7 linked regions of the Homo sapiens genome follow. The protein of the gene in region 2 interacts with the protein of the main gene of each other region in a pairwise test. Each region holds a gene or a part of one and is shown on either strand. Other genes may lie near its edges.

The links.
Region 1: the proteins of TRIM69 (region 2) and GLE1 interact in binary tests that used the Homo sapiens proteins (3 or more experiments, as listed by UniProt).
Region 3: the proteins of TRIM69 (region 2) and NUP58 interact in binary tests that used the Homo sapiens proteins (3 or more experiments, as listed by UniProt).
Region 4: the proteins of TRIM69 (region 2) and MID2 interact in binary tests that used the Homo sapiens proteins (3 or more experiments, as listed by UniProt).
Region 5: the proteins of TRIM69 (region 2) and LARP1B interact in binary tests that used the Homo sapiens proteins (3 or more experiments, as listed by UniProt).
Region 6: the proteins of TRIM69 (region 2) and DBH interact in binary tests that used the Homo sapiens proteins (3 or more experiments, as listed by UniProt).
Region 7: the proteins of TRIM69 (region 2) and SF3A3 interact in binary tests that used the Homo sapiens proteins (3 or more experiments, as listed by UniProt).

Annotation. Positions count from the first base shown.
Region 1 is NC_000009.12:128,535,719-128,539,218, forward strand, and holds part of GLE1 (mRNA export factor GLE1), read left to right. Parts: intron 1-636; coding exon 637-766; intron 767-1,108; exon of another isoform or gene 1,109-1,237; intron 1,238-2,267; coding exon 2,268-2,372; intron 2,373-3,500. UniProt on the Homo sapiens protein: Required for the export of mRNAs containing poly(A) tails from the nucleus into the cytoplasm. May be involved in the terminal step of the mRNA transport through the nuclear pore complex (NPC).
Region 2 is NC_000015.10:44,760,528-44,764,027, reverse strand, and holds part of TRIM69 (E3 ubiquitin-protein ligase TRIM69), read right to left. Parts: intron 1-3,500.
Region 3 is NC_000013.11:25,311,625-25,315,124, forward strand, and holds part of NUP58 (nucleoporin p58/p45), read left to right. Parts: intron 1-1,258; coding exon 1,259-1,408; intron 1,409-1,989; coding exon 1,990-2,127; intron 2,128-3,500. UniProt on the Homo sapiens protein: Component of the nuclear pore complex, a complex required for the trafficking across the nuclear membrane.
Region 4 is NC_000023.11:107,832,366-107,835,865, forward strand, and holds part of MID2 (probable E3 ubiquitin-protein ligase MID2), read left to right. Parts: intron 1-3,500. UniProt on the Homo sapiens protein: E3 ubiquitin ligase that plays a role in microtubule stabilization. Mediates the 'Lys-48'-linked polyubiquitination of LRRK2 to drive its localization to microtubules and its proteasomal degradation in neurons.
Region 5 is NC_000004.12:128,123,812-128,127,311, forward strand, and holds part of LARP1B (la-related protein 1B), read left to right. Parts: exon of another isoform or gene 1-58; intron 59-815; coding exon of another isoform or gene 816-884; exon of another isoform or gene 885-1,677; intron 1,678-3,500.
Region 6 is NC_000009.12:133,649,863-133,653,362, forward strand, and holds part of DBH (dopamine beta-hydroxylase precursor), read left to right. Parts: intron 1-1,771; coding exon 1,772-1,915; intron 1,916-2,383; coding exon 2,384-2,422; intron 2,423-3,077; coding exon 3,078-3,137; intron 3,138-3,500. UniProt on the Homo sapiens protein: Catalyzes the hydroxylation of dopamine to noradrenaline (also known as norepinephrine), and is thus vital for regulation of these neurotransmitters.
Region 7 is NC_000001.11:37,956,475-37,959,022, reverse strand, and holds the end of SF3A3 (splicing factor 3A subunit 3), read left to right. Parts: intron 1-759; coding exon 760-837; 3' UTR 838-2,048; downstream 2,049-2,548. UniProt on the Homo sapiens protein: Component of the 17S U2 SnRNP complex of the spliceosome, a large ribonucleoprotein complex that removes introns from transcribed pre-mRNAs.

The sequences.
Region 1 (3,500 bases), on a different chromosome or scaffold from region 2:
GCAGAGGCAGAAGAATCGCTTGAACCCGAGAGGCGGAGATTGCCTGAGATCGTGCTATTGCTTTCTAGCCTGGGCGACAAGATGGAAATTCCATCTCAAAAAAAAAAATTAGCCGGCTATGGTGGCATGTGCCTGTGGTCCTAGCTACTCAGGAGGCTGAGGCGGGAGGATCACTTGAACCTGGGTGGTGAAGTTTGCAGTGAGCCTTGATCATACCACTGTACTCCAGCCTGGGTGACAGAGACTCTGTTTCCCAAAAAAAAGCAATTTATCTCTAATTTGTCACCCTTATTTTGGCCTTGTCCCAGTGAATTTTTTCTTATTTCTTTTTTTTGAGACACAGTCTTACTGTTACCCAGGCTGGAGTGCAGTGATGCAATCTTGACTCACTGCAACCTCCACCTCCCAGGTTCAAGCAATTCTCATGCCTCAGCCTCCCAATTAGCTGGGACAAACAGGCATGCACCACCATACCCAGTTAATTTTTGTATTTTTAGTAGAGATGGGGTTTCACCACATTGGCCAGGCTAGTCTTGAACTCCTGGCCTCAAGTGATCTGCCCACCTTGGCCTCCCAAAGTGCTGGGATTACAAGCGTGAGCCACCACACCCGGCCAAATTTTTTCTTCCCGTATAGGATGCTTGGTTACCAAGTAAAGGATTCCAAAGTGGAGCAGCAAGACAACTTTCTAAAACGCATGTCAGGGATGATCCGTCTCTACGCTGCTATCATCCAGCTCCGGTGGCCATATGGAAACCGACAGGAGGTAGGTAAAAGAGGCTTACTGTCAATAATGAGAGGTTAGACCACAGTCCATGTGTATTCCTCCCACAGGAAATGTTGGCCTTCTTTCAGAGAGCCAGTCTAGTTAAAGGATAAACTATATGGCAGTTTCATGGGTATTATGTAGAGGACTGAATGTTGATTATTAGGGAACTTTCTTGGATCACCTGGTACTTTAAAGAGCTGGTTTTGTAACAGAGTCTACCAGAGGAGAGTCTGTTATAAATCAGTCATTAAGGTTAGAAGATTTTCTTACAAGAGGAATGAGCAAGAAATTGTCATCTTAGAACTAGTTGAGACCTTAGAAGCCATCTAGATCACATACCTTACTTCACAGATGGACAGAACAAGCTCAGAAAGCTGCAGCTGGGGTTCAGGGCTTTGACTTGCCAGCCCAATTAATTTCTCAGGGAATACAGATTAGAAGGACAGAGAAATTAATAGTTACGGAGACCTAAAGAGAAAAAATAGAAGTTGATTAAATCCAAGTTTTTATTGTATGCCTGCTGTGTCCCAGGTTCTGTGCTAAAGGTACCAAGAATAATAAATAAAATGTCAATAAGGCTAATTGTTACCCTATGGAATGCCTGAAACTGAAGCTGACACATGCATATTGAAGGGAGCCTATAAAGAATGTGTGGGAACCAATGTATTGAAACATTAAAAAATAGAAGGCGAGGTAGCTTCAGGCCTGATATCCCAGCACTTTGGGAGGCTGAGGTGGGTGGATCACCTAAGGTCAGGAGTTCAAGACCAGCCTGGCCAACATGGTGAAACCCCGTCTCTACTAAAAATACAAAAATTAGCTGGGCATGGTGGTGGGCACCTGTAATTCCAGCTACTTGGGAGGCTGAGGCACGAGAATCGCTTTAACCCAGGAGGCAGAGGTGGCAATGAGCCGAGATCACGCCATTGCACTCCAGCCTGGGCAACAAGAGCAAAACTCTCCCTCAAAAAAAAAAAAAAAAAAAAAAAAAGAATGTGTGGGAACCAATGTACTGAAACATTTAAATACAGAAGGCTGGGCGAGGTAGATTCATGCCTGTAATCCCAGCCCTTTAGGAAGCCGAGACAGGTGGGTCATTTGACTCCAGGAGTTTGAGACCAGCCTGGGCAACAAGGTGAAACCATGTCTCTAAATAAAATACAAAAAAATTAGCTGAGCACGGTGGCATGTGCATGCCTGTAGTCCCAGCTACTTGGGAGACTGAAGTGGAAGAATCACTTGAGCCCAGGAGGTGAAGGCTGCAGTGATCCATGATCGCACTATAGCACTCCAACCTGGACAACAAAGTGAGACCCTGTCTCAAAAAAATAAAAGAAAAACAGAATTTGTTTAGTTTGTGTTATTTCTGCCCTGTGGCAGGTGCTAGGGCTGGATGATCTGGGGTTCATTTCCACTTGGTAATGGCTGGATGATACACTGGGAGTTTAGATTTCTAAACAAAATGAGATCAATGATAACCAAGCTTCTCTACTCCCAGATTCACCCTCATGGCTTAAATCATGGATGGCGCTGGTTGGCACAGATCTTAAACATGGAGCCCTTGTCAGATGTGACAGCCACCCTCCTCTTTGACTTCCTGGAGGTACGTAACTCAGTTATCACACAAGAGAAGGCCAGTGGTTGAGGTAGCCTTGATCCACTGGGTGACATGAATGGGGAAACAGCATAGCATTTGGGCCTGATAGTAAAACAGCATGAGGTTCCAGTGTCATACATTTTTCCCAAGCTGTAGACCAACCTTGCTTTCACTTTTACTCCATACTATATTTACTTGGCTTCTCTGGATTTTTTTCATTATAAAGAACAGAAAATTGTACATTCTAGCAAAAGTGAAAAGAGGAATTTGTTTTAGGGATATAGAAGGGACTCCCAGGCCGGGTGCGGTGGATCACACCTGTAATCCCAGCACTTTGGGAGGCCAAGGTGGGCGGATGACATGGGGTCAGGAGTTCGAGCCCAGCTGGTCAGTATATTGAAACCCTGTCTGTACTAAAAATACAAATAAAGGCCGGGCACGGTGGCTCACGCCTGTAATCCCAGCACTTTGGGAGGCCGAGGTGGTTGGATTACCTGAAGTCATGAGTTCAAGACGAGCCTGTCCAACATGGTGAAACCCCGTCTCTACTAAAAATAAAAAATCAGCCGGGTGTGATGGTGCACACCTGTCATCCCAGCTACCGAGGAGGCTGAGGCAGGAGAATCGCTTGAACAGGATCTCACTCTGTCAGCCAGGCTGGAGTGCATTAGTGTGATCATAGCTCACTGTAGCCTCAAACTCTTGGGCTCAAGCGATCCTCCCACCTAACCCTGCCAAAGTGTTGAGATTACAGGAGTGAGCCATTGCACTCAGCCAAGAAGACACTTCTTATAGAAGAAAGCCTTGGGGTACATGCCATAACAAATCTGGAACCATTTGATCTATAGTGCCAATAGTTCCTAGTTACCTTAATAGCTCCTGACGTCAGCCAGGTGCAGTGGCTGACAGCCTTTGGGAGGCCAAGGCAGGCGGATCACTTGAGCTCTGGAGTTCAAGACCAGCCAGGGCAATATGGTGAAACCCTATATCTACCAAAAAAATACAAAAATTAGTGGTGTGTGCCTGTGGTCCCAGTTACTGAGGAGGCTGAGGTTGGAGGATCACCTGAGCCCAGGGAGGTTGAGGCTACAGTGAGCTGTGATCATGCCAGTGTCCTCTAGCCTGGGCGACAGA
Region 2 (3,500 bases):
ACTCGTCAAGGCCAGAGAAAGAACCTCCAGAAATCAATAGACTGAACAATTTCTGGAGCTCACACAAGGCTGGGAATAATTTTCAATCTTGCCAACCAGAATGGAAAAATGTCGTAATATGTCAACGTCAGGTAGGGTAATCAGAAGGGTATATTACTTTAGAAAATGGGCTAAGTTAGCCCTAGATTAAAGGCTGCTCTTGAGCCACTCTAACTAGGCTTTATTTAAGCCTCAGAAGGAACAAAATGATGTCATACCATGTTAACTGCATGCCAGAGTTAAATTCAATAGAACTGAAAGAACTACAACAAAATCCAGCAAATACAAAATTCACCAATATGAATTCATCAGTACAAACAATATGAAATTCATCATATTTGGCATCCAGTAAAAAATTACCAACCAGAAGAGACAAATCTCCAGGGCAGCAAAATTTCAAATAATTTACATTAATACACTACCCTCAGGGAGAGGGAGCATAACTATCCCCTCCTTAAGCGTGGGCTGTGCACAATGACTGCCTTCCAAAGTATACAAGTATAGAAGGAGGGAAAAAGAGTACAGTGGAGAAACCTGACAGACACTTCCTCAGCCAGGTGATTAAAGTCAACATCAATAGTCATAAATCATGTTGACGGTATGAACACTTAATGTGATGTGATGACAATGACACTTTAATGCTACTGTCTTCCTCTCCCAATTAATAACCCAAATTTTATGAGGAAAACATCAAACAAATTGCAATAGTGCAGCATCCTTACAAAATATATGACCAGTACTCCTCAAAACTATCTAAGTCATAAAAAATAAGGCAAGCCTGAGAAACTGTCACAGCCAAGGGGCACCTAAAGAAAATGACAACTTAGTGTAATGTGGCACCTTAGATGGAAACCTAAAACAGAAAAATGACATTAGGTAAAAACTAAGAAAATCTAAAGGAACTATGGATTTCAGTTAATAATGTATCAATTTGGTTCATTAGTTGTTAAAAATGTTAAATCTAAGATGTTAATAATAGAGAAAAGTGAGGATGGGGCATATAAAAAACTCTATACTATCTTCTCAGTTTTTCTGTAAAATTAAAAAATCTAAAAGTGTCCTAAAAAATAAAGCCCATTAAAAAGAAAAAGATTACTAGCCATACAAAGCAGCAGGAAAATATGACTCTCAGGAGAACAATCAAACAATAAAATCAGGCCCAGAAATGACAATGATGATAGAATTAGCAGACAAGGATATTAAAATGGATAAATGTCTTCCATTTTTTCAAGAATGTAGAGGAAGGCATGAACATGGTGAGAAGAGATAAGAAAGATATAAAAAGACCCAAATGAAACTTCTAGAAATGAAATGTATATAAAATGAAAATATCTTGAACAATATTAACAGAAGGTTAGACCATGCAGAAGAAAAGATGAGAACTTGAATAACAATAGAAACCATTTAAAATAAAGTGTGAGGTGAAAAAAGGCTAAAAAAGTACTGAATATCGATGACATGAGACAACTTGACAATATCAAGTTGTCTAAAATATGTAAAATTAGACTCCAAGAAGGAGAGGAGAAAAGGGGTTGGTAAAAAAGTATTTGAAGAAATACCAGCTGATATTATTCAAAATTTGATGAAAATTATAAACCCTTAGATCCAAGCAGCTCAATGACGCACAAGCAGAATAAATACAAAGAAAATCACACCAAGACCACGTATAATCAAATTGATGGAAGCAAGTGACAAAAAGCAAGTCCTAAAATTAGCCAGAGATGGCCAGGTGCGGTGGCTCACGCCTGTAATCCCAGTACTTTGGGAGGCCGAGGCGGGCAGATCACGAGGTCAGGTGATCGAGACCATCCTGGCTAACATGGTGAAACCCCATCTCTACTAAAAATGCAAAAAAATTAGCCGGGCGTGGTGGCGGGCACCTGTAGTCCCAGCTATTTGGGAGGCTGAGGCAGGAGAATGGCGTGAACCTGGGAGGCGGAGCTTGCAGTGAGCCGAGATTGCACCACACTCCAGCCTGGGTGACAGAGTGAGACTCCATCTCAAAAAAATAAATAAATAAAAATAAATTGAAAAGGCAAGCCATGGAGTGAGAAAAAATATTTAAGAAACATATATCTGATAAAGGATTTGTATCCTTTACAACTTAATAATACAACAATTTAACAAAAATATAGACAAAAGTTTGAACACAACCAAAAAAATATATGAATGGCAAGGAAGCACCTGAAAGGACGCTCAACAGGATTGCTCATTAGGGATATGCAGCCGGGCACCACGGCTCATGCCTGTAATTTCAACACTTTAGGAGGCTGAGGTGGATGGATCACTTAAGGCCAGGAGTTCAAGATCAGCCTGGCCAACATGGCAAAACCTCATCTCTACTAAAAATACAAAAATTAGCTAGGCATGGCAGTGCGCGCCTGTAATTCCAGCTACTGGGGAGTCTGAGGCGCAAGAATCACTTGAGCTTCGGAGGCAGAGGTTGCAGTGAGTTGAGATGCACCACTGTACTCTAGCCTGGACATCAGAGTGAGACTCTGTCCCACCCTCCCACCAAAACAAGAGATATACAAATTAAAACCACAATAAGATACTACTATACATTCAATAAAATGGTTTAAATTAAAAAGATTGACAATATCAAGTTTTGGAAAGGATATAGAGAAACTGGGATTTTCACTAATTGCAGGATGGATAAAACTACCATGGACTACCCCATGTCCATCAACTGGGAAATGAATAAGTAAACTGAATAAATAATCATGATTATTGATACATGGAACAACATAAGTGCTCAAAAAGCATTATGCGGCCTGGCGCAGTGGCTCATACCTGTAATCCCAGCACTTTGGGAGGCTGAGGCGGGCAGATCACGAGGTCAGGAGATCGAGACCATCCTGGCTAACAGGGTGAAACCCCGTCTCTACTGAAAATATAAAAAAATTAGCCGGGCATGGTGGCAGGCGCCTGTAGTCCCAGCTACTCGGGAGGCTGAGGCAGGAGAATGGCATGAACCCTGGAGGCAGAGCTTGCAGTGAGCAGAGATGGCACCACTGCACTCCAGCCTGGGCAACAGAGCGAGACTCCATCTCAAAAAAAAAAAAAATTATGCTAAGTGAAAAAAACCAGAAGACACAAAACACTACATAATGTATGCTATCACTTAGACAAAAATTTAGAAAAGACACATTTAAAGTGAAATAAAACATGTCAGTGAATGTTAGAGGCTGAGAGTAGAAGGAAGAGATTGATTTCAAAGGGGCATGTAGGAACTTTTTGGAGTGATAAAAATCTTCTATATTTTGATTATGGAGAGGTTTACCTAAGTGTATATATACATCAGAACTCATCAAATTGTGCCCTTAAAATTGGATAATTTTACTCTATGTTAACTATATCTCAGTATAGTTGATTTTTCTTCAATGTCAATTACCTGGAAAAATTTGCGATTTTTCATTAAATCAGGGATATATTTGTGATTTCTCATTAAATCAATAACC
Region 3 (3,500 bases), on a different chromosome or scaffold from region 2:
TTGGCTTCCCAAAGTGCTGGGATTACAGACGTGAGCCACGGCACCTGTCTTTTTTTTTTTTTTTTTTTTTAAGGTAACCAAGATAATTTTAAGAATAGATTAGAGGTTAGAAGAGACTGATACCAGAGAAATAAATGCTGTTGTAGTAGTTCTTAAGAGAGATATGGCCTAAGCTAAGGTTTTTAAGGATGCTTGTAGTACAGGATATTTCTGAAGTAGGATCGACAGGATTTGTAACTAATGGAGTACAGGAGAAGGAAAGGATGTCAAGGATGACTGGTTTCTGGCTTAAGCAATTGAACTGAGCAAGGTTGGAGATATAGCAAAAAATGTTTGTGGTGAGATATGTAGGAGGCCAAAGGGACATCAAGATAGAACTAGACAATGAGGACTTAGGTAAATGTCAGTTTAGACTTAATCACCTGTAGGAGAAATGATGAAAGTGGGTGTGTCATTGGGGAAGTAAGGAGGTAGGAATGGAACTCTAGGAAGTGTCAGTTAAGACATGAACAGAGGAAAGAGAGCTACAGAAAAAAAGGACTGAAAAGGAATAGGGAGACAGCTGGGGGCTGACAGAGACACAAGGGCCAGAAGAAAGGAATAGAGAATGGTTATTGATAGAGTATTAGAGAGGAGGGACCATTTTTCTGCTGAGAGGGAAAGGAGGAGGATAAATGCTGCATTAGAGGTAAATCTAGGAGTAGAATAAAAATTGATATGTTACATCGATTGGATTTTCTTTTCTGTTTTTTTATTTTTTGAGACAGAGTCTCACTCTTGTCTCCCAGGCTGGAGTGCAGTGGCACGATTTCAGCTCACTGCAACCTCCCCCTCCCAGGTTCAAGTGACTCTCGTACCTCAGCCTCCCGAGTAGCTGGGGTTACAAGTGTGCACCACCACATTGAGCTAATTTTTGTATTTTAGCTAGAGGCAGGGTTTCACCGTGTTGGCCAGGCTGGTCTTGAACTCCTGACCTCAAGCAATCTGCCCATCTTGGCCTCCCAAAGTTTTGGGATCACAGGCGTGAGCCACTGTACCTGGCCATTCTTTTGTTTTTCTTAAAGAGCCATCTTTTTTGTGTTCACCATGGTTTAGTCTCAACTTTTACATATTTTCTCTCACAGATACACCCTTCTTCTATTGGCAAAAGGTAGTATCATGAACTTTTAAGGATCCTTATTGAAACCAGTATAATAGAACACTTACAGGTAAAGTAGGATTTTTGTTTGTTTGTTTATTCATTTATTTATTTAAATAGGAACGCCAGCCACTACATCTGCAGCTACAACAGGCTTCAGTTTAGGATTCAATAAACCTGCAGCATCTGCCACACCATTTGCTCTACCTATTACCTCTACCTCAGCTAGCGGTCTGACTCTTTCGTCTGCTCTGACATCAACTCCAGCAGGTGAGGCAGAATGAAAAACCGTTGCATTTAATGGTTAAATTTCAATTTTATCTGGTTAGAGAACATAGATAGTCACCTTACTACAGAAATTATTGATTTATAAAGAAGAAAATTCAGCTTTGAGCATTGAAGCAGGAGAGGCTGTCTTGATGTCCCTATTTAGAGAGCAAAGCAGGGGAGAGGGCTAGAGAGGTAAAATGTAAAGCTGTTAATATTGACTTTGTTTTGAAGGAGGCATTTAGTGACAGGGGAAGACAAAGACTTGGCATAAACCTTGCCTGGCTTATGATTCATTTAATATGAAGGTGAAGTTGGTGGCCTGGGTTGAAGACAATATTGCTATCTAGAATCAGTTACCTGGTACCATTCTAATACTCCTCAAAGCCCTTATTTCTGTCGCAGATTTTTGCTTTGAAGCTGCTATTTCTCTTTATTCTTAAGTATGTAATTTTTAGCAAGTAGTTCTTCCAAAGAGCCAATTTTATCATGGATGTCAGTTTTTAAAAACATCGTATTTGTATTTTTCTATGGTGCTGTTAAATAAGTTGCCTTTTGAAAGCTTACTATCTCTCTTTTTATAGCATCCACAGGATTTACTCTAAATAATTTGGGTGGGACAACAGCCACAACTACAACTGCATCAACAGGCCTCTCTTTAGGGGGAGCCTTAGCTGGTTTGGGAGGTTCACTTTTCCAGAGTACAAACACAGGAACATCAGGTAATTGATGGTATTTATTCTCCAGAATAGTAAATATTTATATTTAAATGTACTTATTTTTATTTTAGTACTTTGAGCAGGTCACTTTTTAATCTGCATATTTTCCTTTAAATATGAAAACTAAATTATAAAATGATGGTTTTCATACATAATTGGATGTATTAACCGTATTTTATTTATTTATTTATTTATTTTGAGATGGAGTCTTGCTCTGTCACCCAGGCTGGAGTGCAGTGGCGTGATCTTGGTTCACTGTAACCTCCACCTCCAGGGTTCAAGAGAGATTCTCCTGCCTCAGCCTCCTGAGTAGCTGGGATTACAGGTGTGTGCCAGCACACCTGGCTTATTTTTGTATTTTTAGTAGAGATGAGGGGGTTCACCATGTTGGCCAAGCTGGTCTCAAACTTCTGACCTCAAGTGATCCGGCTGCCTTGGCCTCCCAAAGTGCTGAGATTACAGGCGTAAGCCACCGCACCCAGCCTATTAGCCATATTTTAGAAATACATTTTCCTCTTTCTCAATATTGACTAACCAGATAAGGAAACAAAGAAGAGCCTGTTTAAGGAGTCAGTAAACTGATCTAGAGATAACATCTCTTCTAAAAAGAACAAAAATTGTATTAGCTCAGTAATGCATGGTCTTATAAAAGTATAGATTTATTAGGCTGGACACGGTGGCTCACACCTGTAATCCCAGCACTTTGGGAGGCCAAGGCAGGTGGGTCATCTGAGGTCAGGAGTTCGAGACCAGCCTGACCAACATGGTGAAACCGCATCTCTACTAAAAATACAAAATTAGCTGGGCATGGTGATGCATGCCTGTAATCCAAGCTGTTTGGGAGGCTGAGGCAGGACAATCACTTGAACCTGGGAGGCAGAGGTTGCAGTGAGCCGAGATCATGCCATTGCACTCCAGCCTGGGCAACAAGAGCGAAACTCCATCTCAAAAACAATAATAACAATAAAAAAGAAATACAGATTTATCAACACAAGATGCTTGAAATTTTGCGCTTGACTCACAAGTGTACGTTAATGACTTATGATTAACCGTAGTCTGGTCCTTTTTATTCCTTTTGTCAGTGAGGGAAGATGTAAATAAGCAAATGAATTCTAATACTTTTTTTTAAGTTTTGTGAAACGAACTTGGGAGTATGAAATTATATTCAATACATGTTATATTCAAATGTTATAAATTCACACTAGATTATCTTAAAAGTATGTAGTTCCAAAGTGTGTTTGTAAGACAAGATGTATTCACCTGAAAATACACCAACTGAAACTGCTTTTGTAGAGAGGGTTTAAAAGCCCTCTGTAACAAAACCCCTTTATAACAAGTGAAGATTGAGTGCCTACATACTGAATTGATATATGTTC
Region 4 (3,500 bases), on a different chromosome or scaffold from region 2:
GTGATTGTCTGCCATTATGTCAACCATGTGTTTGGGATGAATTTCCAAACATTTTTGGCTTTTCTTAATAACTTGCTTTGTTTCTATAATCTATGAATGTATGATGAGAATACCTGTATTTGTAAAGTAAACTAATACTTTTATTTTATCCTCGTCTGATCCTCACAATAGCCCGTGAGATGGGCAGGGCAGGTATTTTTCATCTGATAGATGAAAAAGCTGTGGCCCAAAGAGTTTAAATGTACCTAGGATTGCTCGGCTAATTTGGTTTAGATCCAGGACTACAACCAGGCTGTATTATGAGGGTCAAATGAGATAATGGCTTTGAAATAATTTGAAAAGTATAAATTGATATACAAATGTAAGGTGGCTATTATCAATTATTATTACTGACCACCTAGCCTCTTCTGTCTAGGTTTCTATTTTCAGTTCTTATCCTATAGTGTGTGAATTCGATGCATTGGTTGCCTTTTGTGTTCCAAAATGATCTGCTTTGAGCTTCAAGGGGTTCTTTTCTAATCATGGTGTTCTAGAATTTGGATTTTGGTTTCTTTTACAGCCCCCAAATATATTCTCATTAGTTTATATTCCCATGGGACTCTTCTCCCCTTTAGTTGTCCTCTGGAACATCCATTATGTCTTTTTTGAGATACAACAGACAAAAACCACTGTACTTTGAGCATCTTAGTAATGCATTTTGTTTATGTCCTGCTCCAGTGGCTGTGATGTCTATCACTTGTTAGCCTTCCTAGTCACACTAATAAATAAAAGTTGTGTTTTTAGGAGCTAGTTTACAATAATCCAAGCTGTCTTTTTATGTGGTAACAGATAGCAAGAGCTCTATAATAATCGGATGTCAGAGCTGGAAAGCATCTTAAAGAGATCGTCTGGTGATTCTAGTTTAGCTTGAACATTTTACAGTTGAGGAAACATCAGACTAGGCCAGGACTCATTTGCTCCTTACCCCAAGGCAGGGAGACAGTTTCTAATACTTTAAGGAAGAACTCATGGGACATTAATTTTAATATCCTGAAGAATGTTTATTTTATATATATATATATATATTTTTTTTAAAAACCTACAGCTCAGCTCATTTCTCAATCTACAGCCCAGAGATCAGGCTTGGTTTCACACTCATGGATTTTCTATGAAGGGAATACTATAACTCCTCAGGAAGGTAGTGGGAGCTCAGATACATGCTTTGCAGACCCGGAAGAAAAAAAATTAGATGGAATAATAATTGTTAATTAAGTGGGCATTTAATTATGCTCAAGTAACCTTTGAAATAATAGAATTATGCAAAGTACAGATCACGACTTCTCTCTTGATCAGAGTTAGCTAAAGGCTAGATTTGGAGGACAATGCTGAAATCAGTCTTTTATTTCATAAGTGTAGGATGCATTATTTTTACGTTTTTGAAATTTATTTTTTATTTTTATTTATTTTGAGACAAAGTCTCATGCTGTCACCCAGGATGGAATACAGTGGCACAATTACGGCTTACTGCAGCTTCGACCTGCTGGACTCAAGCGATTTTCCCACCTCAGCCTCTCAAGTAGCTGGGACTACAGGTGCATGCCACCACACCCCACTAATTTTTGTATATTTTGTAGATATGGGGTCTTGCCATGTTGCCCTGGCTGGTCTCGAATTCCTAGGCTCAAGCAATCTGCCTGCCTCTGCCTCCCAAAGTGCTGGGACTACAGGTGTGAGTCACCACGCCAGACCCATTATTTTTTATCTTAATCACCTTCATCAAAACTCCTTTTGTATTTCTACCCAGTTATACAGCCCAATGGTACCTTCTTCTAGTTTATGCTCATCGACTTCTTTTTTCAGAGGTCTCACCCTGTAGTAAGGCACAAGGTAAAGAAAAGCCATACAGAAACAAACATACATATCTGACTATATATGGCAGTAACTAAATGGTTTGGAAGGGAACTAATCAGGGTGTGTGGATGTGGACATTTGTTTCTTAATATGGCAATTGATCGTGCCCTCTCAGGTATTTCATCAATGCGTTTTTATGACAAATTGTAAAAACTTTCAAGATTACCTGTCATTGAGTTGCACCCTATCAGATTCACATCCTGTCTTCATCCTTAGCATACTCTCTAACTCTGTATAGATTAGTGATTCACAAACTTTTTGAAATTGCAACAGTTTGCCATTGTTTAATTTTTGTCATGCCACTTCCTCCTGCTAAAAGTATTTCATGATAATAGGAGTCAAATATTTTTCAGGAGTCACTTATATACTTTTTAAAGTGAATAAAAATTGGGAGCTGAGAATTTTGTAACACTCATTGATCACTAGAGATATCCCAGGGTATTGCAAAACCTAGACAGGGAATCATTGACCTAGAAAAACAATTGAAAGGAACAAGCAATCCAATAGAATTTATAAATACTATATAATCACACAGTTGTTAGTATAGTATAGTGATTTGCTGTTTACACCCTGGAGTCAGACAGACCTGGGATTGAATCTCTTCTTTAAAAAAATTAGATGTAATTCACATGCCATAATATTCACTATTTTAAAGTATACAATTCAGTGGTTTTTGGTATCTTCACAAAGTTGTGCAATCATCGTCACTATCTAATTTTAGAACCTTTTCATCATCCCAGAAAGTAACTCCATATTTGTTAGCAATCACTCCTCATCCCCCATCCTCCCCTGCCCTGCTCCTGGCAACCATTAATCTACTTTCTGTTCCTTTGGGTTTGCCTATTCTGGATATTTCATAAAAAAGGAATCATACACAAAAGGAGCCTTTTGTGACTGGCTTCTTTTACTTACTGTTTTCAAAGATCATCCATGTTGAAGTATGTATCAGAACTTCATTCCTTTTTATAGCCAAGTAATATTCCACTGTGTCTATCCTTTCATCAGTTGATGGACATTTGGGCTTTTCCCTTTTGGCTACTATGAAGACTGCTGCTATGAACATTTGTGTACAAGTTTTTGAGTGAACACATTTTCCATTCTTTTGGGTATATACCTAGGAGTGGAATTATATGGTAACTCTACATTTAGCCTTTTGAGGAACTGTCGAACTATTTCCCAAAAGCAGCTGCACCATTTTTTATTTCTACCTGCAATGTATGAGGGTTCTAACTTCTCCAAATCCTGGCTGACGTGCTGTTTTCCGGTTTTTGTTTGTTTTGTTTTATTATATTTTAGCCTTCTTAGTGTGAAGTAGTATCTCAATGTGGTTTTGATTTGCATTTTCCTACTGGCTAATTATGTTGAGCACCTTTTCATGTGATTATTGGCCATTTGTATATCTTTGGAAAAAATCTATTGAAATCCTTTGCCTACTATTAAATTGAGTTACTCATCTTTTTTAATCTTGAGTTGTAAGAGTACATTTCTAGAGACTAGACCTATATCAGATATAATAATATGATTTGCAAATATTTGCGCCTAGTCTGTGGGTTGTCTTTTTACTTCATTGATGGTGCTTTTTGCAGCACTCAAATTTTAAATTTTGATAA
Region 5 (3,500 bases), on a different chromosome or scaffold from region 2:
AGGTGATTATTTCCTTAAATTATAGACAATAATTAAAAGCCATGTATTGAGTTCTTGAGGCATGTGCTGATCTTATTCATTAAATATTAACGGAAAGTAATCTTGGCTTATATAACTTTAACCATTATAATTGCAGATATGTCTTACTTTGACCTGATTCTTATGTACATTCCCATCATTTAACTCATCCCCTTTGGTTCTGATTCTGTCTTCTACATGTAGTATCTCATTAGACTTGTACTTTTCCTGTGGGTCTGCTTAAAGGGAGAGAAATCAGTCATTTAACATATACTCATTGAGTGCTTACTATGTGCCAGACACTGCTTAGAAACTGGGCACAGAGTGAGAAGGTAACAAATAGGGTTTCTACATGCCTAGAACCTACAGCTAACTGGGGGAACAGACTTAAAAATAAACCCACAATAAGTACTTAATCACAAATTACAATAAATACTCTAAAAGAAAAAAACAGGATGCTATTTCATTGAGTAGTCAGGGAAGGCCTCTGAGAAAGTCAGTAATAGTGAAATCTGAAGTGGAAGTAGGACATAACCAAGCAAAGAGTAGGGAAACAGTATTCCAGGAAAAGGGAACAGTAAATGTCAAGGATCTGGCAGAAAAGATTTTGGTGTATTTGAGGAACTGGAAAAAAGGTCAGTTTGCCTACGGTATTATATAAAATGTTAATTATAGATGAATAGGCAGGAGTCATCATTTATGCGCCATGTTAAATAATGTGGAGTTTATCTAAAGTTCAAATCCAGTACCTTAGGTTTTGCAAAGGCAGTGTGACATCTAATTTTTATTTTTAATAGATCACTCTGGTTGTTTTGGCACAGAATGGATTGTACAGGGACAAGAGTGGGCAGAAGAAATCCAGTTAACAGGCTGTCCATATAGAAGATGAATTGGTCGGCCAAGACAAACAGGTGGCAGAGGAAATATAGAAGTGAGAAGACCTGTCTCATCTGAGCCTTGAGGAATGATTATATAGGAGTTGTATAGGAAAGTGTGTTGTTGTGGAAGTCAAAAGCTGGCTCTAAGAGAAGAAAATAATCAGGTGTGTCAGCAACTTTACAGGTTGAATTAGATAGGAATGAAAAGTATGCCAAATTGATAGGGCAGTTTAGTACTCATTTTTGACCTCTGCAAAAAGAGTTTTGGTGGATCCAGAAGCTATGTTGAACTGGACCAAAGAGTGAGTAAAGGCTTTATTCTGTTTTTGGCATATATTTACTGCTGAAGACTACTAAAATGATAGGCTTATAGGTAAGAAAATATCTGCTTAAAATCTTTGAAGATATGCTAGGTAAGTTATTATCAGGATAAAACTATACAGAAGTGAAGTACTGAAACTTAGTTTTACCCTTAGGACCCTTTGTAGAAGCTACCCAAAACGGGTAAAAACCATAAACTCAGGGACCATTCAAAACTGTGGATTCCCATAGGATTCCTTTTCCCATTTAATTGGTACCCAAAAGTGCACCAAGATCTCACAGATCACTACTAAATAACTTACTCGTGTAACCAAATACCACCTGTTCCCCAAAAATCTATGGGAGAAAAAAGATACCCCAAAAGAATACACTTACAGTGGAAGAACTAAACTTGCTTCCTACCTGCTCCCCAAGGGACTCTGTAAAGAATATTTTTCTGGCTGGCGCAGTGGCTCACGCCTGTAATCCCAGCACTTCGGGAGGCCGATGTGGGTGGATCACGAGGTCAAGAGATTGAGACCATCTGGCCAACATGATGAAACCCCATCTCTACTAAAAATACAAAAATTAGCTGGACATGGTGGCGCGTGCCTGTAGTCCCAGCTACTCGGGAGGCTGAAGGCAGGAGAATCACTTGAACCCGGGAGGTGGAGGTTGCAGTGAGTGGAGATCACGTCAATGCATTCCAGCCTTGTGACAGAACAAGACTCTAACTCAAAAAACAAAAAACAAAAACAAAAACAAAACAGAATGTTTTTCTGGTTGTGCTGAGCAGAATAGAGAGGAAAAAATTGGGCTAGAAGTTGTATTCATGCAACCCAAGTTCATACTCTGGGTGACTAAAGGAAGCACTAGTTGTAAATTTGATGTGATTGTGGTCTCTTAGTTTCCCAGACACCTAGCATATGAAAATAAAGATTTTTTGTGTATGAAAATATTCACCTTTATCTTAGACCTCCTTTATTCACATTATATTGCAAGGAAAGTTAGCAGCACATAAAGTGAATAATCTAACAAGAAAGTGAGATCTCGCATGTGAGAATGAGCAAAAGTAACAGGCAGCAGAAACATACCTTAAAATAATCTTTTTTTTTTTTTTTTTTTTTTTTTTGAGATGGAGTCTCTCTCCGTCACCCAGGCTGGAGTGCAGTGGCACCATCTCAGCTCACTGCAACCTCCGCCTCCCAGGTTCAAGTGATTCTCCTGCCTCAGCCTCCAAAGTAGCTGGGATTACAGGCGTGTGCCATCACACCTGGCTAATTTTTTATGTTTTTTGTAGAGATGGGGTTTCACCACGTTGGCCAGGCTGGTCTCGAACTCCTGACCTCAAGTGATCTGCTTACCTCGGCTTCCGAAAGTGCTGGGATTACAGGCGTGAGCCACCATGCCTGGCCCCTTAAAATAATTTAGATAGTCAGATTATTAAACAAAATATGCAGTAGCTAGGCTTACTGTGTTTAAGGAAATAAAAATATGTGTAGAGAAGAAGAAATCCTAAAGAATAACGATAGAACTGGAAGTAAAAACAATTATGATTAAAATTAAGAACCAAATCAATTGAAGGGATTAGCAACAGATTAGACAGAATTAGAGAATTAGTCAATTGGAAGACTGTTCCCAAGAATTTATTCAGAAATTTCCACAGAGTAGCAAAGAAATAGAATATATGAAAAGAGGATACAGAATGATTTTCTACAGTCTTTGCTATTGGTTGGTAAGTTTTAATCAAGTTTTGTAATTTAACATCTAGTAGATTTTATTATAAAGCTTTTTATTTGTTTTTGTTTTTTTTTTAAAAAAAGGTAAGCAAGAAACTTGGAATATAGGATAACGGAGAAGGTCTAAAATATACATTTAGTCAGAGTTCCAGAATGAAAGGGTAGAGAGAATGGGGCCAAGTCATTATTATAAGAGGCAATTAGGACCTCTACAGAACTGAGGAGAGGTGTCAGAGTTTAGCCAGAAAAAAAAGAGATTACTTTCAAGAAAGAAGAATCATTAGACAGCTGATAGCTAGTTTCCCAACAGTGACAACCAATAGACATTGGAATGATAGCTTTAATTTGCCAAGGGAAAATAACTATCAACTGATAATTGTAGGCCTTGCAAAAATATCTTTCAGTAAGAGTGTAGAATATGAGAAATGGCCACCAGCAGAGTCTCATGAAAGAAAGTCCCAAAGGGTAGAATAAAAGTGATTTTACCTATCAGAGACACAGAAAGGACTGCAGAGCAAAACAAGTAATAAATACATGAATAAACCTAAGTGAATATTAACTGTAT
Region 6 (3,500 bases), on a different chromosome or scaffold from region 2:
ATACAGACCCGCCTCCCCTTGCCAGAGTCCTCCACTACCTTAAGTAACAGAATGAGAATGTTCAGTCTTGTCTCTCCTTTGGCAGATAAAAGAGGGGCACAAATTCTGCAGCCAAAATCTGGCCTAGTCTAGCTATCCCAGTGAAATAGGCCAAGACAAGAGTGCTGCTTTGGACCAGAGTGCCCAGAAGAGCATAGTCCTCCCTCCACCTGGCCGACACCTGGCATCTCTGGGCCAGGGTCGGCCTCTGGGGGCCAAAGGGGCATTGGGACCCTTTGGGCTCCCAGGCCTGGCACACAGTGGCCTCTCAAGCCATTGCAAGGGACACAAAGCTATAGGCGACGGCAAGGTCAGGGCGGCCGCTGCTTGGGAGCGAGAGGGAAGGAGCAAAAGTGAGTCCTAAAAAGCTCGGCCATCTGGGACCTTCAGGGATGGGGCTGTCGGGACCTTGAGCTCTGGGACCTGCTGACTGCATGAACAAACTGGGCAGAGCCTGGCAGCGGGTGGGCAAAAGGACAACTGACTCACAAAGAAAATGCTCGATTTCAGGAAAGACGTGTTCTTTTCTTTCCTTCTTTCCTTCTTTTCTTTCCTTTCTTTTCTTTTTCTTTCTTTTTCTTTTTCTTTCTTTTCTTTCCTTTCTTTCTTTCCTTCCTTCCTTCCTTCTCTTTTCTTTCTTCCTTCCTTTCTTTTTTTTTTTTTTTGATGGAGTTTCGCTCCTGTTGCCCAGGCTGCAGTGCAATGGCACAATCTTGGCTCACTGCAACCTCTGCCTCCCGGGTTCAAGTGATTCTCCTGTCTCAGCCTCCTGAGTAGCTGGGATTACAGGCACGTGCCACCATGCCCGGCCAATTTTTGTATTTTTAGTAGAGGCGGGGTTTTACCATGTTGGCCAGACTATTCTCAAACTCCTTACCTCAAATGATCCATGTGCCTCAGCCTCCCAAAGTGCTGGGATTACAAGCATGAGCCACCATGCCCAGCCATGGAAATGCATTTTCTATCTAAAAAAAGTTAGCATTAGGTTAGAGAAAACTTTCGTTCTCTGGAAGATTCTCTCATGCCCCAGTGATGGCATAAGACCTCTTGAGATGAGGGCTGCCATCTTTTCTGTGAGGCCGGCCTGCAGCCTCAGAGTGTCCAGCTGCAGCACCCCATGGTCACATCCATCTTGGTCCTGGATGACCACCTTCCAGTTGTAGCTACAGCTCCCAGCTGTAGCACGGGGTGATGCTGAGCACAGGGAGAATGCAGCCTTGGCTGCTTTGAAGCTGAAAGGAAGCCACAACGCAGGGCAGCTGAAGGTCCTGCTCGGCCCACCACGTAGGGGACCTGCCAAGTACCACCTTCTGCCACTTGCTTTTCCCTGGACAGCAAGCTCTTCAGCACAGAGGCCACGCGCTGCTCAGCTTGGTGGCTTTGCCACACCCTGTCCACGGGAGGCTCGCCTTAAAGGCCTGTTGACTGAGTGAAGATGAACCTGTCAGGCTTCAGGGGCTCAGGAGAGGATGAAGGACTCGGAAAGAAAGTCGCTCCTGAGTGGGACTAGGGGCTGCTTCTTTGGGAGCTGGGGGCTGTTGCGGCCCCCTCGCTCTTCCCCGTGAGGTTTCTGATGGTGGCTCTAACCTGGCCGGGGAGAAAGACCTAGAAAATGCAAGTGTTCCAGGGAAGCAAACTGCCCAGGGTGGCTGCTCCCTACCGGGTCCTGGCCATGGACGGGAGGGTCCCCTCGGGGGTCAGGCCCTGACACTGCAGCCCCCCGACCCCACAGGCACTGCCTCCCTCCGGGATCCACATCTTCGCCTCTCAGCTCCACACACACCTGACTGGGAGAAAGGTGGTCACAGTGCTGGTCCGGGACGGCCGGGAGTGGGAGATCGTGAACCAGGACAATCACTACAGCCCTCACTTCCAGGTAGGAACCTGCACCCCACCCCTGCCCCGCCCCCACACCCTGCCACCACACGACCTCCTGGGTCTACTGTTTCCTGACACCATAGGGATGGCTCCAGGCTGGCTTCTTTTTCCTGGGCCAGCCCCACCCGCCCCCCACCCATGTGGCCTGTGCTCCCCACTTGGGTGTCTGGTGTCTGATCGTAGGGAGGCCTCTGGCACATGGCAGATGGTGGTGGGATTCGGGAGACCCAGGCGGCCCTCTGGGAACATCAATCTTGGTCTTGGATAACCACCTTCTGGTTTGAATCTAATGCCCTCCCTGGCCAGAAGCCACACTTAGCGGGCTCTGGCTTCCACTGTAGAGGCTGGGGCAAAATGGACACCCCCAGAGGTCAGGGAGGCCTGAGGGAGGACACAGTGGCCGGGGGTCTGGTCTGCAGCTCTCTGAGGTCTCCTCTCCCCCACCCCTCGGCTCTGCCTGCCCCAGGAGATCCGCATGTTGAAGAAGGTCGTGTCGGTCCATCCGGTGAGTGCCCAGCGGGAAGGCTGTCCCACTCACTGCCACCAGCTGGGGTGGCTGAGAGGGCTGGGGGTGCCACCAGAAGGAGAGGGACACAGAAAGTGATAGGGGGAGGGAGAGCCATCCAGGGCAGGGGGAGGGTGCCTGTGGGTGGCTCTGGGCTGGGCTACCTCATGGGGAGACTCACTCAGGAGTTCATGGAGAGACGTTGGAAAGAGTGGAGCAGACAGGACACTCCCAGGGGACGCGTGTCCTCAGTCTGATGGGCCGACCACAAACCCGAGAGTGTTTGGGGGAGATGAGGGCACTAAGGCAGGCAGTGGAGCCCTGATCCCACAGAGGGCCAAGCCCAGGCCTCGGTGGGGACTTGCCCAAGTCCTTTGAGATGTGTCATGGCCCACCAGCTGCACCCCCACTGGCCTGGGCCCTGGCCCTGTTGTGACCCACTGGGTCACAGGAGCTGATGGTTTATAACTTGCTCGGGAACACTCAGCCTGTGACCTTCGCACATGAATCTGCTGGGCTCCTTGTAGTGGACGACAGGGACTGTACCCCAGAGGTGCCGTGGCATGCACAGTGGCGTGGTCCTATGGGGGCGAGGCCTCCAGCACCTGCCAACGCCAGGTGGCAGGTGCTGATGGTCACATTGGCTTTTCCTCAGGGAGATGTGCTCATCACCTCCTGCACGTACAACACAGAAGACCGGGAGCTGGCCACAGTGGTAAGTCACCCCCGCTTCCCCCTGCACCTGCCCAGGGCGAGTGTTCAGCCTGAGCCATCTGAGGAAGGATGACAGGTCTTGACTCCTCACTTAGGGCATGGGCTCGTCCCCTCAATAAGCCAGTCGTTCTCAGCTCCCTGAACCACAGTGGCAGCATCACCAGGGAGCTTGGGATGAATGCAACCTCCTGGGTGCCACCCCAGGCCCACTGAGTCAGAGACACAGGCGGTGGCATCGGGCAATCCATGTTTTAACAAGCTCCCAGCGGATGTTGACCCCTGCTCAAGGTTGAGAAGCACTCACACCAAGAAGCTTCTCAGCACCCGGGGCTGGTGTGGGGAGAAGCTGTAGGACAAGAGGTTG
Region 7 (2,548 bases), on a different chromosome or scaffold from region 2:
TTATAGACTAAAATGCCGAGACTCTGTATCATGTATTAGATCTCCTTTGAGGAAAGCATCTAATGAGAGATGATACTCTCATAGCGACAGGGAGATGTCCTTGTTGGTCTTATGATGGTCATCCCAAGCAGCAGGTTTCAGAGATCAAGAATGACATGTATGTAAGGAATGGTACTGACTCACTCCAAGTCCCATAGTAACTGACAATAGCCTCCCTTTTTTTGAGTCAGTGGTTTTCAGTATTTTTTTTCTTTTTGGCAGCAAAACTCTCTTCCACTTGTAATATAGTACTCTGATATATAAAATAGAATCAAGCAGAATTGCCCTGGACATGGGGAAGCTCAGACTTCCTGGCTTCCCTTTCAACCCCTGCAATGGCCTCTGAGCAGAATCCTGGGATTCTTGGGAACCATTTGAAAACTGCTGTTGTAGGTCAGCCTTTCTCAACCAGGGTTCCCCATCTTAAACATAGAGAGCTAAATAAACTATTTTCTCAGATACTCTAATGATGGGTCATGACTGATATCATTCTAGATGTCTACGAGAGAAGTTAATTCATTGCACACGGTGGCTGCTTTGGGGCAGTGGGACTTAATTCTCTTGTGGAACCCCAGTTGAGAAAGGCTTAGATGAATGCCAATCTTAGTGTACCAGAGTATGCCATGGAATCAGGCCAGGATGAGCTCAGGTACTTAGAGATTGGTTCCAAACATTTCTTTTAGGAGAGCTGTCTAACAAAGTGTACCCCTTCCTTTTCAGGAAGAATATGAAGACTCAAGTGGGAATGTTGTGAATAAGAAGACATACGAGGATCTGAAAAGACAAGGACTGCTCTAGTGTTCAGGGATGTAGCTCAGCTTTTGGGCTAGCCCAGGCTTCCCTAAGATCTGCTTTTTCTATTTCTCCCAACCAAATCCTCTTAAAGACCCTTTGCTATGTAGTCTCATGGTCTAGCATGCATCTTGTAGAAACAAGGCATGCTGGCAGATTGCAGGGTTGAGATGTGTTTTATCTGTTTTATATTTTAAAAGATTCTGCCAGAAAATAAAACCAGACCTTGTTCTAAAGCCCAGGGTTATGGACCAACTCAGTGCTTCAGGTCTTAACGCCTCCATACCTCTTCCTCACCAACTTTACTAGTAGCTGAGATTTAATGGGCACCTATTATGCTACATATCATGTTAGGTAAATCTGACCTGACCTCTTTCCCCACCCTCCTTTGTTGCTGCTTCCCTGAATGAGTATTACCCCAGGATGAGGTCTGCCATCAGCTTAGTTAGCCATTGATGCAAATACTAGGGAAAGACTAGGAGGATGAGCCAGGGTTGCTACTAAGGACTAAGTGTCGCACCAAGGTTTGCCTTTTGTATTTGCATAAAGAAAGGAGTTGGAGCTGGGTGCAGTGGCTTGTGCCTGTAGTCCCAGCTACTTGGGAGGCTGAGGCAGGAGGGTTGCTTGAGACTAGCCTAGGTAACATAGTGAGACCCTGTCTCATTAAAAAAAAAAAAAAGGCATGGTGGCACGCACTGTAGTCCCAGCTACTCAGGAGACTGAGGCTAGAAGATCCTTTGAACCTAGGAGTTTGAGACCAGCCTGGGCGATATAGTGAGGCCCCATCTCAAAAAAAAAAAAAGGGGGGGGGGGGGGAGTTGGGCTGTGTTGGAATGGGCCTGCAGCCCAACAAACAAGGGAACTAGGACCGACAGTGACTTCACCAGCTTGCTAGGTCAGAATGAGAGACTGGTGGGTCTGTCTACCTGTTTCTTCTACAAGATCCCTATTTGACTGTAAAAGTAGCTAATACTCACATGTTCTCCAATCCCAGGTAGCCATGGTAGAGTTGGGTAGAGTTGAGCAGCTGCCCCAGGATCCAAATGTGGTGTCTGAAATGGAAAGAACTAAGGCAACCAGGAAGGCACTGATCTGCCTTATAAGCACAGTCATCTGAAAGTCAGGCCTGCTGCAGGACAGGATCCCCCAGAGACCCCATTTGCCTCTCAACACTCAGACCTTCAACTGTTTTTTAATAAATCTACTTTTTAAAAAAATGTTAATCTTTTTCTTTATATTACACATTTATATCTTATTTTTCTAAAAACCTACCAAGAACCAGTGCCGCACTCATCCCATGCAGAGGCAGGCTGGCTAATATATCTACTTTTAAAAATTCCAACTCAGGCCATGCGCAGTAGCTGATGCCTGTAATCCAAACACTTTGGGAGGCCGAGGGCAGCAAATTACTTGAGGTCAGGAGTTGGAGACCAGCCTGGCCAACATGGCGAAACCCTGTCTCTACTAAAAATACAAAAATTAGCCAGGCGTGATGGCATGCACCTGTAGTCCCAGGTACTCAGGAGACTGAGGCAGGAGGATCACTTGAACCCAGGAGGCGAAGGTTGCCATGAGCCGAGATCACGCCACTGCACTCCAGCCTGGGTGACAGCGAGACTCCGTCTCAAAAAAAAAAAAAAAAAAATCCCAACTTGAATTAGCCTTCTGCCTCACACCAATCTTTTGCCCTGGTTATTTCCATGGCAGTAAAGTTTCA